3 linked regions of the Homo sapiens genome follow. The protein of the gene in region 2 purifies or fractionates together with the protein of the main gene of each other region. This does not show direct contact. Each region holds a gene or a part of one and is shown on either strand. Other genes may lie near its edges. The genes, in order: ABCF1, FKBP3 and LRRFIP1.

What was found.
Region 1: the proteins of FKBP3 (region 2) and ABCF1 fractionate together in Homo sapiens (co-fractionation; one large-scale study listed by BioGRID). This does not show direct contact.
Region 3: the proteins of FKBP3 (region 2) and LRRFIP1 fractionate together in Homo sapiens (co-fractionation; one large-scale study listed by BioGRID). This does not show direct contact.

The regions. Positions count from the first base shown.
Region 1 is NC_000006.12:30,570,116-30,574,385, reverse strand, and holds the start of ABCF1 (ATP-binding cassette sub-family F member 1), read right to left. Parts: upstream 2,945-4,270; 5' UTR 2,899-2,944; coding exon 2,826-2,898; intron 1-2,825. UniProt on the Homo sapiens protein: Isoform 2 is required for efficient Cap- and IRES-mediated mRNA translation initiation. Isoform 2 is not involved in the ribosome biogenesis.
Region 2 is NC_000014.9:45,120,908-45,124,560, reverse strand, and holds part of FKBP3 (peptidyl-prolyl cis-trans isomerase FKBP3), read left to right. Parts: intron 1-2,940; coding exon 2,941-3,076; intron 3,077-3,606; coding exon 3,607-3,653. UniProt on the Homo sapiens protein: FK506- and rapamycin-binding proteins (FKBPs) constitute a family of receptors for the two immunosuppressants which inhibit T-cell proliferation by arresting two distinct cytoplasmic signal transmission pathways. PPIases accelerate the folding of proteins.
Region 3 is NC_000002.12:237,777,471-237,779,901, reverse strand, and holds part of LRRFIP1 (leucine-rich repeat flightless-interacting protein 1), read right to left. Parts: intron 481-2,431; coding exon 370-480; 3' UTR 1-369.

The sequences.
Region 1 (4,270 bases), on a different chromosome or scaffold from region 2:
TGGGAGGACTGGTTGAGGCCAGAGGTTCAAGATTAGCCTGGGCAACATAGCAAGACCTCATCTCTACAGAAAACAAAAAACAAAAACAAACAAAAAATAAGCCAGGCATGGCGGTGTGTGCCTGTAGTCCCAGCTACAAGGGAAGATGGCTTGAGCCTGCGATTGAGGCTGCAGTGAGCTGAGATCGCGCCACTGCACTCCAGCCTGGAGTGAGGCTCCGTCACAAAAAAAAAAAACCCACCAAAACCAAAAAAATCTTTTGTACTTTAATCACTCTTATCCACTTCATTATAGGGACAGGAAAAGCCTCCGAAGAGTTTCATTGTGAGAAAGTATAATCCCCAAGGAACTGAAAAAGATTAAGTGTGGCTAGAGATATACTGTGTCTTCTCTCCTTTCGTATATCGCTTAAGCTGCTCCTTCAAGGCAAGAAAGCAAGCCTTCTTTACCCTTATACCCCTCTCCCCCATTACTGTTTCGTATTCTTGTCCTCATTGGGTCTCAAAATCGTAATTCACAAGCTTCACTTTCTCTTCTCCCATACCTTTGAAACATACTGCAATCTGGTATCATCTCCGAATGAACACTACTTCTGCCAAAGTTGCCACTGAACCCTTAGCTCCTCAAACCACAAAGTATTTTTTGGTCCTTATTTTGCCTGACTTCTCTGCAGCATTCCATGCTGCCTACCTCCACACCTTTTTTATTCTCTTCTATCATTATTTAATTTCTGGGATCTTGCTCACTCCTGGTTTGCCTCCAGTTTCTCTGGCTGTTTGCCTTTCTCAGTCTCATCTCTTCAGCCTCCTTCCCCACCTGCTTCCTGCAATTGCTGAAGTTCTTTAGGGTTCCCACCTTTAACCTTCTTTTTGGTTCAATCTGCAAACACTCTCTAGGGGACTCTTCCATATCCAGCACTTCAACTCTACTTGCCTGTGTCTTTACTCCTAGTATAGTTGTCTCTCCACAGTGACTAAACAAACTCTCTTCTTGCCATTTCCTTTTAGAAATCCTCAGAAACGCCTAACTCAGCATTCAGAAGTTCACCTTATCTCTTTCCACTTCTTACTCTCCTGTCCATTACTGCTTTCAGTTAATAGTCTACTAGTCACTGGGTTACTTAAGTGTCAACCTTACTTCTCCCTTCATTTAATCAGTTCTCAGTTCCGATCAATGCCGCCTCCTTAGTAACTCTTTATTCTTCAGGCCTTGGCTTATCCCCTTACCACTTCTCACCTAGATCATGGCCAGAGCCCCCTAAATGGTCTCCCCGCCTCCATCTTGACCAGTTCAAGGCCATTCATTCTCCATTGCTCAGTGCTACAGGTGAACTGTTCATAATCATTCCTTATGCACTTCAATGGGCCTTCCTTCTTAATGTCTTTAGGATTAAACTCCTCGGAATGGCATCTAAAGCCTTTCATTATCTGTCTCCTGAGCATCTTTCTGACTTCATCACACTAGTCACCAGGCTCTAGTGGGACCAGTCAGGCTTGCCTACATCTCTACCTTCCACAAACTTCCTTGGCTTGGAATGCGCTTCCCCTTGCTAATTCACGATGATCTTTCAAGAATAAACTCTGGGGAGCAGATGTAGTGGCTCACGCCTGTAATCCCAGCACTTTTGGAGGCTGAGGCAGGAGAATTACTTGAGCCCAGGAGTTTGAGACCAGCCTAGGCAACATAGCCAGATCTTGTGTCTACAAAAAATTTTAAAAATAAGGTGTGGTGGTGCATGCCAGTAGTCTCAACTACTTGGGAGACTGAGGCAGGAAGATCCTTTAAACCCAGGAGGTGGAGGCTGCAGTGAGCCATGTTCATGCCACTGCACTCCAGCCTGGGTGATGGAGCTACAATGTGCCTCAAAAAAAAATACTCAGCTATTACATATTCTTGGGAGGCTTTGCTGACACTCCCTTACCTGTCTGAGTAGATGCTCCTCCTCTCTTCTACAGTCCCATAACATTCTTAAGCACCTTCATCATACTCTGACAACCACTGTCTGTCTGGTTAATGCTCTGACCCTTCACCATACTGGGTTGTCCCTTGAGGGAAAGTCTTATCTTTTATCTCTACATTCCCACTTCCTCCACACAGTACCTGGTATACAGTAGGCATCCAATAAGTGCTTTTAAAATTAGTTACTGTGTACCTACTGGGGTTAGTTGTGTCCATTTATGTCCCCCTTAAAACTGACTTCAACCCTGGGAGGATATCTTCATGTTTTTTTCCTTCCCCTCTCAAAGCACAGTATATAGAGTGCTTAATTAAAAACAAGCGCTTAACAAACTTTCGCTGCTTTTTAAGTAAACCTTAACCCTCATTCCAACATCAAAAATCTACACTCTTGCTCCAGTTGAGTGAGAGGGGTGTCTTAAGAAAGAAACCATGAAGGAGTCACCCTCTCTTGAGAAACAAGGGGGATCACAGGCTCCCAAGGTGTGTGTATGCGCGCGCAGGGGGAAGGGGAGGTCGAGGCAGGGCTCATATATTCCTGGTGGAATACAGTGTATGGTGGGGCGGATGTCCAAATTTTTTAAGCAAGGTTTTCCCATTTCTCCCCATCTCTCCCTCGGTGCCATATGCTCTTTCTTTTATCTCGCCCAGTCTCACTTAGGTCACGTGCGACATCTGGATCTCTTTCCTTTAACCCCGATTCCAAACCCACTCCTCCCCGGCAAACTCCTCCCGGGCCCACGGCACGCATGCGCAGTAACTCCCGCAGGGGCCCGGTCAGTCTCGTGCCCCATGACCCTCTCTTAAAACACGCGCAGTCTCCTCTCTCTTCCCCCTCTGCTCGTTTCTTCCTTGCCTACCAGCCTCACCTGATGGGCTCGTGCTCTCTCCGTCCCCGATCCACTCGGGCTCCGGCGGCTGCTGCTTGGGCGCCTTCGGCATCGCGGTGGCAGTTACAGCTACTGTGGCGGCGCCCGGTGCTATTTCCGCTTCCGGCGGCGGGGAACCCCGATGGGGCTGGCTCTCCAAGCTGGCGCGGCCAACCCCGCCCCCGGGCTGCGCACGTGCGAGCTTCGCCGTCATCTCGGGGGCGTGGCCCTGGTTCAGTGGAGGCGTGGCCTGCAATGACGGAGCGGGGCCGGCGTCCGCTTGCTCCAGTCGCGTAAACACATGGCGTTTACGACTGTCTGGGAAGCCTGACGCCGTGACCTCCCGACGCCGCGAGACTCAAGGAATGAACATAATAATTTCCTACTAGTATGAAGGAGTTGAGGCATACTGTTTTTTTGTTTGTTTTGTTTTTTGTTTTTTTAAAAAGCATATTCTAGTTTCTATCTGTAACTCGTTTCTAGTTCTGCCACCGCGATGCCGAAGGCGCCCAAGCAGCAGCTGCCGGAGCCCGAGTGGATCGGGGACGGAGAGAACACGAGCCCATCAGGTGAGGCTGGTAGGCAAGGAAGACACGAGAGGAAGGGGAAGAGAGAGGAGACTGCGCGTGTTTTAGGAGAGGGTCATGGGGCGCGAGACTGACTGGGTCATGGGCAGAAAAGACAGTGCAGACCAATGGCTAAGGGAGAGGTCTGATCGGTCCAGTGTTGAAATGTGTCACAAAATCCCGAAGTGTACAATTGTAAACAGGGAACTGGAGCCCAACATGCAGAAGTCACGGTGCAGTGGAGCTTCGGTTCATTTATTTTTTTTGGTAACAGCTTTACTGAGATATAATTGACATACAATAAACTGTACACAAAATAAAATGGCACCCAAAATAAACTGCAAAGTATCACTTAAATAAGTTTTGACCTGCATAAACCCAGTAAACTATCACCACAATCAAGACTTTGGTTCACTTCTAACTCTACCACTTAATATGGGAGCTTGAGCAAGGTGCTCCTGTAGTTCTGTCAGCTCTCAAACCACTACAATCATGCTTTTGTTGCCACCATTGTCTGAATTCACACTTGCCAAAGTCAACAGATCTGGGGCCATCCTACTCACTCTCCCATCAATGTTTGATAGACTTGGTCGCTCCCTCCCTCCTTTGTTTTCTTCAGGGACACTACTCTCTATAGGTTTCCTTTGCATCTAATGGGCTTCTCCTGAAGTCTAAATGTTGAAGTGCCTCAGGGCTAAATCTTTGACACTCTCCTTAATCTAGACTTATCACCTATCACCTCCTGACTTTAAATACCATCTATAACCAATGAAGATTCCCAAACTTCTCTTGCTGGCCCCCAACTTCTGCCCCGAGCTCCAGGCTCATGAATTCAACTGCTTATGGGACATCTTCTCTGAGATCTTTAATAAATCTCTC
Region 2 (3,653 bases):
AAAAATATATATATATAATTTTTTTTTTAAGACAGAGTTTTACTCTTGTCACCCAGGCTGGAATTCAGTGGCACAATTTTGGCTCACTGCAACCTCTGCCTCCTGGATTCAAGTGATTCTCCTGCTTCAGCCCCCTAAATAGCTGGGATTTCAGGCGCCTGCCACCATGCCCAGCTAATTTTTGTATTTTTAGTAGAGATGAGGGTTTCACCATGTTGGCCAGGTTGGTCCCGAACTCCTGACCTCAGGTGATCAACCCTTCTGGGCCTCCCAAAGTGCTGGGTTTACAGGTGTGAGTAACTGCGCCCAGCTGATTGAAAGATTTCTATGCTGTATGCACCTGCTCTACTGAGAAGGTCATGGAAAAGACAAGAGTTCAAAGGCTGATAGAATTCTGGAACTTCAGGGAGGGATAGATTAAGATCCTGCATGGTTTAGGCCTTTGGACACAAAACTATAAGCAGTAATTGTTAATATCACTCTAGCAGTTGAGTAGAGGACTGACTCAAGGTGTCAGAGATAAACACAATCGGACATTAAAGTGGTGAAAACAGATTTTATTCAGCCTACTGACAGTAGGGGAAAGAGCTAAACTCCAGTCTGATTTGTGGAGGGGTAACTGGGCCTTTTAAAAGAATGAGGGGGCTGGGCCTGGTGGCTCACGCTTGTAATCCCAGCACTTTGGGAGGCCGAGGCGGGCAGATCACGAGGTCAGGAGATGGAGACCATCCTGGCTAACATGGTGAAACCCCGTCTCTACTAAAAATACAAACAAAAATTAGCTGGGTGTGGTGGCGGGCGCCTGTACTCCCAGCTACTTTGGGAGGCTGAGGCGGGAGAATGGCGTGAACCCGGGAGGCAGAGCTTGCAATGAGCCGAGATCATGCCACTGCACTCCAGCCTAGGTGACACAGCAAGACTCCATCTGAAAAAAAAAAAAAAAAAAAAAAAAAAAAAAGGAGTAGAGAGGGATTTAAGCAGAGTTAGAGAAGTGAAAAATTACATAAAGTAGGAAGTGGGGTTGGTCCATATGAAACCCATCTGAGTTTGCCAACTGGCGCTTATCAAAATCAGGCTCCCACAGAGACAGAGACAGGGGTCCTATCTTCATCTTGAGGCGTTGGCTGGAACAAACAGTAAATTTTTTTTGGCAGCCTTAAGTTTTCTTAGGCGGACACTTTAAGGAGGGATCAGGTCCTCCTAGGAATAAGGCCTTGAGCTATTTGAAACTTGTGTTTGTTCAAATCTTTATAGTCCAAGGTTGAAGGCTTGTGAAGAAGAGGTCTCAGAGGACCCTAGCTAGGGTTTGGTCAGGGAGAGAATCTTTTGCCCAAGAGGTAGACTATTTGCAAGGAGATCAGACTTTTTTTTTTTTTTTTTTAGATGGAGCCTTGCTCTGTCGCCCAGTGGTGCCATCTTGGCTCACTGCAACCTCCGCCTCCTGGATTCAAGTGATTCTCCTGACTCTACCTCCCGAGTAGCTGGGATTACAGGCACACGCCACCACATCCACCTAATTTTTGTATTTTTAATAGAGATGGGGTTTTACCATGTTGGCCAGGCTGATCTCAAACTCTTGACCTCAAGTGATCCACCCACCTTGGCCTCCCAAAGTGCTGAGATTACAGGTGTGAGCCACCGCACCCAGCACAGATATTTTTACTTACAAGTTTTGGAAAAGGATAAAACCTTCAGCTAGGGAAATGAAAGTGAATAAAAATTTGCATAACTTGACCAATTAGAAATAGATCAGGAATAGGCCAGGCGCGGTGGCTCACACTTGTAATCCCAACACTTTGGGAGGCCGAGGCGGGCGGATCACGAGGTCTGGAGTTCGAGACCATCCTGGCCAACATGGTGAAACCGTGTCTCTACTAAAAATCCAAAAAATGAGCTGGGCGTGGTGGCAGGCGCCTGTAGTCCCAGCTACTCGGGAGACTGAGGCAGGAGAATCACTTGAACCCAGGAGGCAGAGGTTGTTGCAGTGAGCCGAGATCACACCGCTGCACTCCAGCCTGGCGACAGAGTGAGACTCCATCTCAGAAAAAAAAAGAAATAGGTCAGGAATAAAGAAAACACTTTTCTCTTGCTTTTCAAACTCAGGAACTAATAGATATGAATTATTGGATATCCAAGCACACCTTTGTTATTTATTTTATGAAATTTAGAAACCAAATATAGATTTGGATAATGCAGATCCCTCTGAATTTGGTCTGAATTCAGAAACCAAATAGATTTAGGTAAGGATACTTTTAAATTCGGTACACTTCTTCTTTTTTTTAATTAACTCCCTAAGATTCTTGACAGTTCCTCTGTCTGCTTTCCTCTCATATATGAATTGCTATTGATTAGATTAATATGTAACCTTTTTTGTAGAAGACCCTGATAATCCTACTTTGTTCTAGGAAATATGCCTGTTATAGCAATTTCTTTAGGTAATTTCATCCATTGTGTGAATTTATTTTCCAAATCGGGGACAGAGGCAATATCACTGTATTCATTCTAATTGGTTATTATAAAAACACCTAGTAATATCAATTATTGCTGCTAAAACAGTTCAAATCTTTGTGGGGGGGAAGTCACCATCCCTTATTTTAATGCCTTATGATTTCATAGGAATTAAATAGTAATGATTTTTTTTAACTTTAGGAAATAACTGAAATCATGTTATGGTTTGGTGAATTATTAACAGAATCTTATTAGAAGAATTTAGGCTTCCAAAGAAGCTGGAAGTTATTTGAAATTAAATTATAGATGTGTAAGTTACTAATAGTCACATCACAGCCTTGAAATTAGATACTGAGGGTTTTGTTTGTTTATTTATTACCAAATCCATCAAACTCTTTAAACTGACTTTGGTCATTGTTGGCTATTGTTTGTCATTCTTTTAAAGGACACAAATTAATAACTCTGTGTGTGTGTGTTGTTTTTTGTTTTTAGGGTCCACCAAAATATACTAAATCTGTTCTGAAAAAGGGAGATAAAACCAACTTTCCCAAAAAGGGAGATGTTGTTCACTGCTGGTATACAGGAACACTACAAGATGGGACTGTTTTTGATACTAATATTCAAACAAGTAAGTCTAAATGGAATCTTATGTTTTTGGCTTAAAGAGATTCTAAATACTTGGGTGGCAGACAGATGAGTAGTTAGCAGTACCTTTTTCCTGACTGTCACCTACTTTCATCCAGACATACTTTCCCCCAAGATCTACTTGGAAGAGGTCTTCAGTTCACTGATTATTGGCTGGCTAAAGACCTCTTGTTCTTTGGAAAGCAAAAGATAAGGAATCTCAGTCTAAACCTGGTTAATGTCCCAAAGTAAGGCATTAGTATTTGAATAGAAAAGGCAGGATAGTATGCTGTTTTGTGATATAAGTATAGGTCCTACCCCTCTACCCTTTGTTAAGAATGTAATTATTTTTACAGCCAGAATTTTATTGATGGATGATCTTTGTAAATTTTTTCCTTCTTTTAAAATACATAGTATTGTAATTCTGAAATCAAACCACTATATTTTTCCACTGGAATTTAATAATTTCCAATGGAAATTTCTTAATAATAAATTAGAGTATATCATTAATGATAAGGAAAATCTGTTTTACAGGTGCAAAGAAGAAGAAAAATGCCAAGCCTTTAAGTTTTAAGGTCGGA
Region 3 (2,431 bases), on a different chromosome or scaffold from region 2:
ACACATGAAAAAAAAAAAAAACTCAAGTCCCAACTGAATCTTTACTTTGATCATCACTTCCAGCGGCATTCAGAGGCTGCTGTGCGGTCAGACACAGAGCTCCCTCGAGGCCCCTGTGTGCTTATGAAGTACCTGCAGGTTCTGAGCGTCGGCGCCAGCCCGGGCCAGGGGTCTGCAGACAGAGGCACCTGGTGGCTGCTGGGGCTCCCTGGGGTGAGCCATGGCACGGGAGCCCCTAAGCGCCAAGCTCGCCACGGTCTTCGTCTCTCGGAAGGCAGGGGAAGAAGCAGCGCTCCCAGATAGGACAGAGAAAAGCCTATGAAACAATGCTCTCCAGTCACCAACCAGTTGCCTGATCAGAGCTGGAATTTACTGCTGGGACAAGAGTGCACTCCGATTTGCTTTCATTTTTTCCAGACGCTTCACTAAGTGGCCGTTGCTCACCTCGAGCTCTTCTGTTTTATCCAATGCAGAGCGGAGCTGGGAACGGAGGAAAGGCAGTGAGCTTTAAGGAACTTGTTTCCTCCAAACATAACAGGGTTCTGTGTTACCGAAATTCCAATCCTACTGAAAAATAAAATGATAACTTGGCCCCTGGTCCCTCATGATGCCCTTCCTCCTCTGAAACAACTGGACTCCAGAGAGGGAACACCCTTGGGGATCCTGATGGTTTTCTTTTTTTTTTCTTGAGATGGAATCTCGCTCAGTCGCCCAGGCTGGAGTGCAGTGGCGTGATCTCGGCTCACTGCAAGCTCCGCCTCACGGGTTCAAGCGATTCCCCTGCCTCAGCCTCCCGGGACTACAGGTGTGCGCCACCACCCTCAGTTAATTTTTTGTATTTTAGTAGAGACGGGGTTTTGCCATGTTGGCCAGGATGGTCTCGATCTCCTGACCTCGTGATCTGTCCGCCTTGGCCTCCCAAAGTGCTGGGATTACAGGCATGAGCCACCACGCTCGGCCTCTTTTTTTGTTTGTTTTTTTTTTTGAGACAAAGTCTCGCTCTGTCACCCAGGCCAGAGTATAACGGTGTGATCTTGGCTCACTGCAACCTCCGCCTTCTGGGTTCAAACAATTCTCTTGTCTCAGCCTCCTGAGTAGCTGAGACTACAGGTGCACACCACCACACCTGGCTAATTTTTTGTATTTTATTAGAGATGGGGTTTCACCATGTTGGTCAGGCTGGTCTTGAACTCCTGACCTCAGGTGATCTACCCACCTCGGCCTCCCAAAGTGCTGGGATTACAGGCGTGAGCCACACGCCCAGTGGGGATCCTGATGGTTTCACAAAAGGTAAGTGAGGCATGAGGTAAACAAACACAAACAACAAGAGCTGAGCCTGGACTGCATGGCGAAGGTGGTCCCCACAGCCCTGGCAGCCAGAGTCCAAGGCAGGAATGCCTGAGGCCAAGACGGCCACACCTGGGAGCCAGGGCCATGGAGCCTGAGAGTCAGGCAGAAGACGAGCTGCAGAAGCCACATTAGCAGGGCATCATCTGGACCCACAGGCAGCAGGGCAGAGTGGGGTGCCCTAAGCTGGGAGAACGTGGTTTTGGAGGGGTGACAAGAACAGGGTCTATGGCTCTGCTTTCGACCCAAAACACTCAAGGAAGCTTGTTTGGGTCCTGGGACAGAAGTCCCGACCCCACCTCACTAGCAGAGGCAGAAGCAAGCCCTTTTTGCAGGAAGTTTCCACAAGTTAAGCCTGGAGTTATTCCTACAAATTAAAATCAAGCATAAGCTCACAAAACACTAAGGTGACAAACCATTTGAGTGAGAGTCAACAGAAGCAATAAATGACAGAATTAGACCCCCAAAGACTGAGCATGTTTCAGTTGTCAGATACAGAAAACCAAACAGCTGTGTATGAAATATTTAAAGAATAAGAATACAATTTAAAAAGAGGACATACATGAACATGCAGCAAGAAACTATCAACAATGAAGACACTTTTTAAAAAAAATGGTGAACTGGAAAATCTTTGCAAAAACTTTAGGCATTATCCAATAGAGAGAGGTAAGGAGATAGAAAACATGAAAGAGAGATGGTTAAAAAATGTGGAGACAATGAGAATCTCTAACATCCTCTGATTAGAGTTCCAGAGGGGAAAGTGGAGAGACTAAAAAAGAGGAATTATTTAAGGAGTTAATGGTTGAATATTTTCCAAAATCAATTTTTAAAAAGACTTCACAGATCCAAGAAACACTATATATCTCAAGCAGAAAGATTCCAATAAACTACATCTAACAGTAAAACTGTAGAAAATCAAAGACAAACAGAACCTGAAAGAAACTAGAGAAGAAAAAAAAAGGTCCCTACAAAGGACCGACCGTTAAAACAACAACTTTCTCAACAGCTCAATGGAAGCCAGCAGATGGTGGCATAATCGCTATAATCATTGAGGAAAATGACCACCACACAGAATTGCATGTCC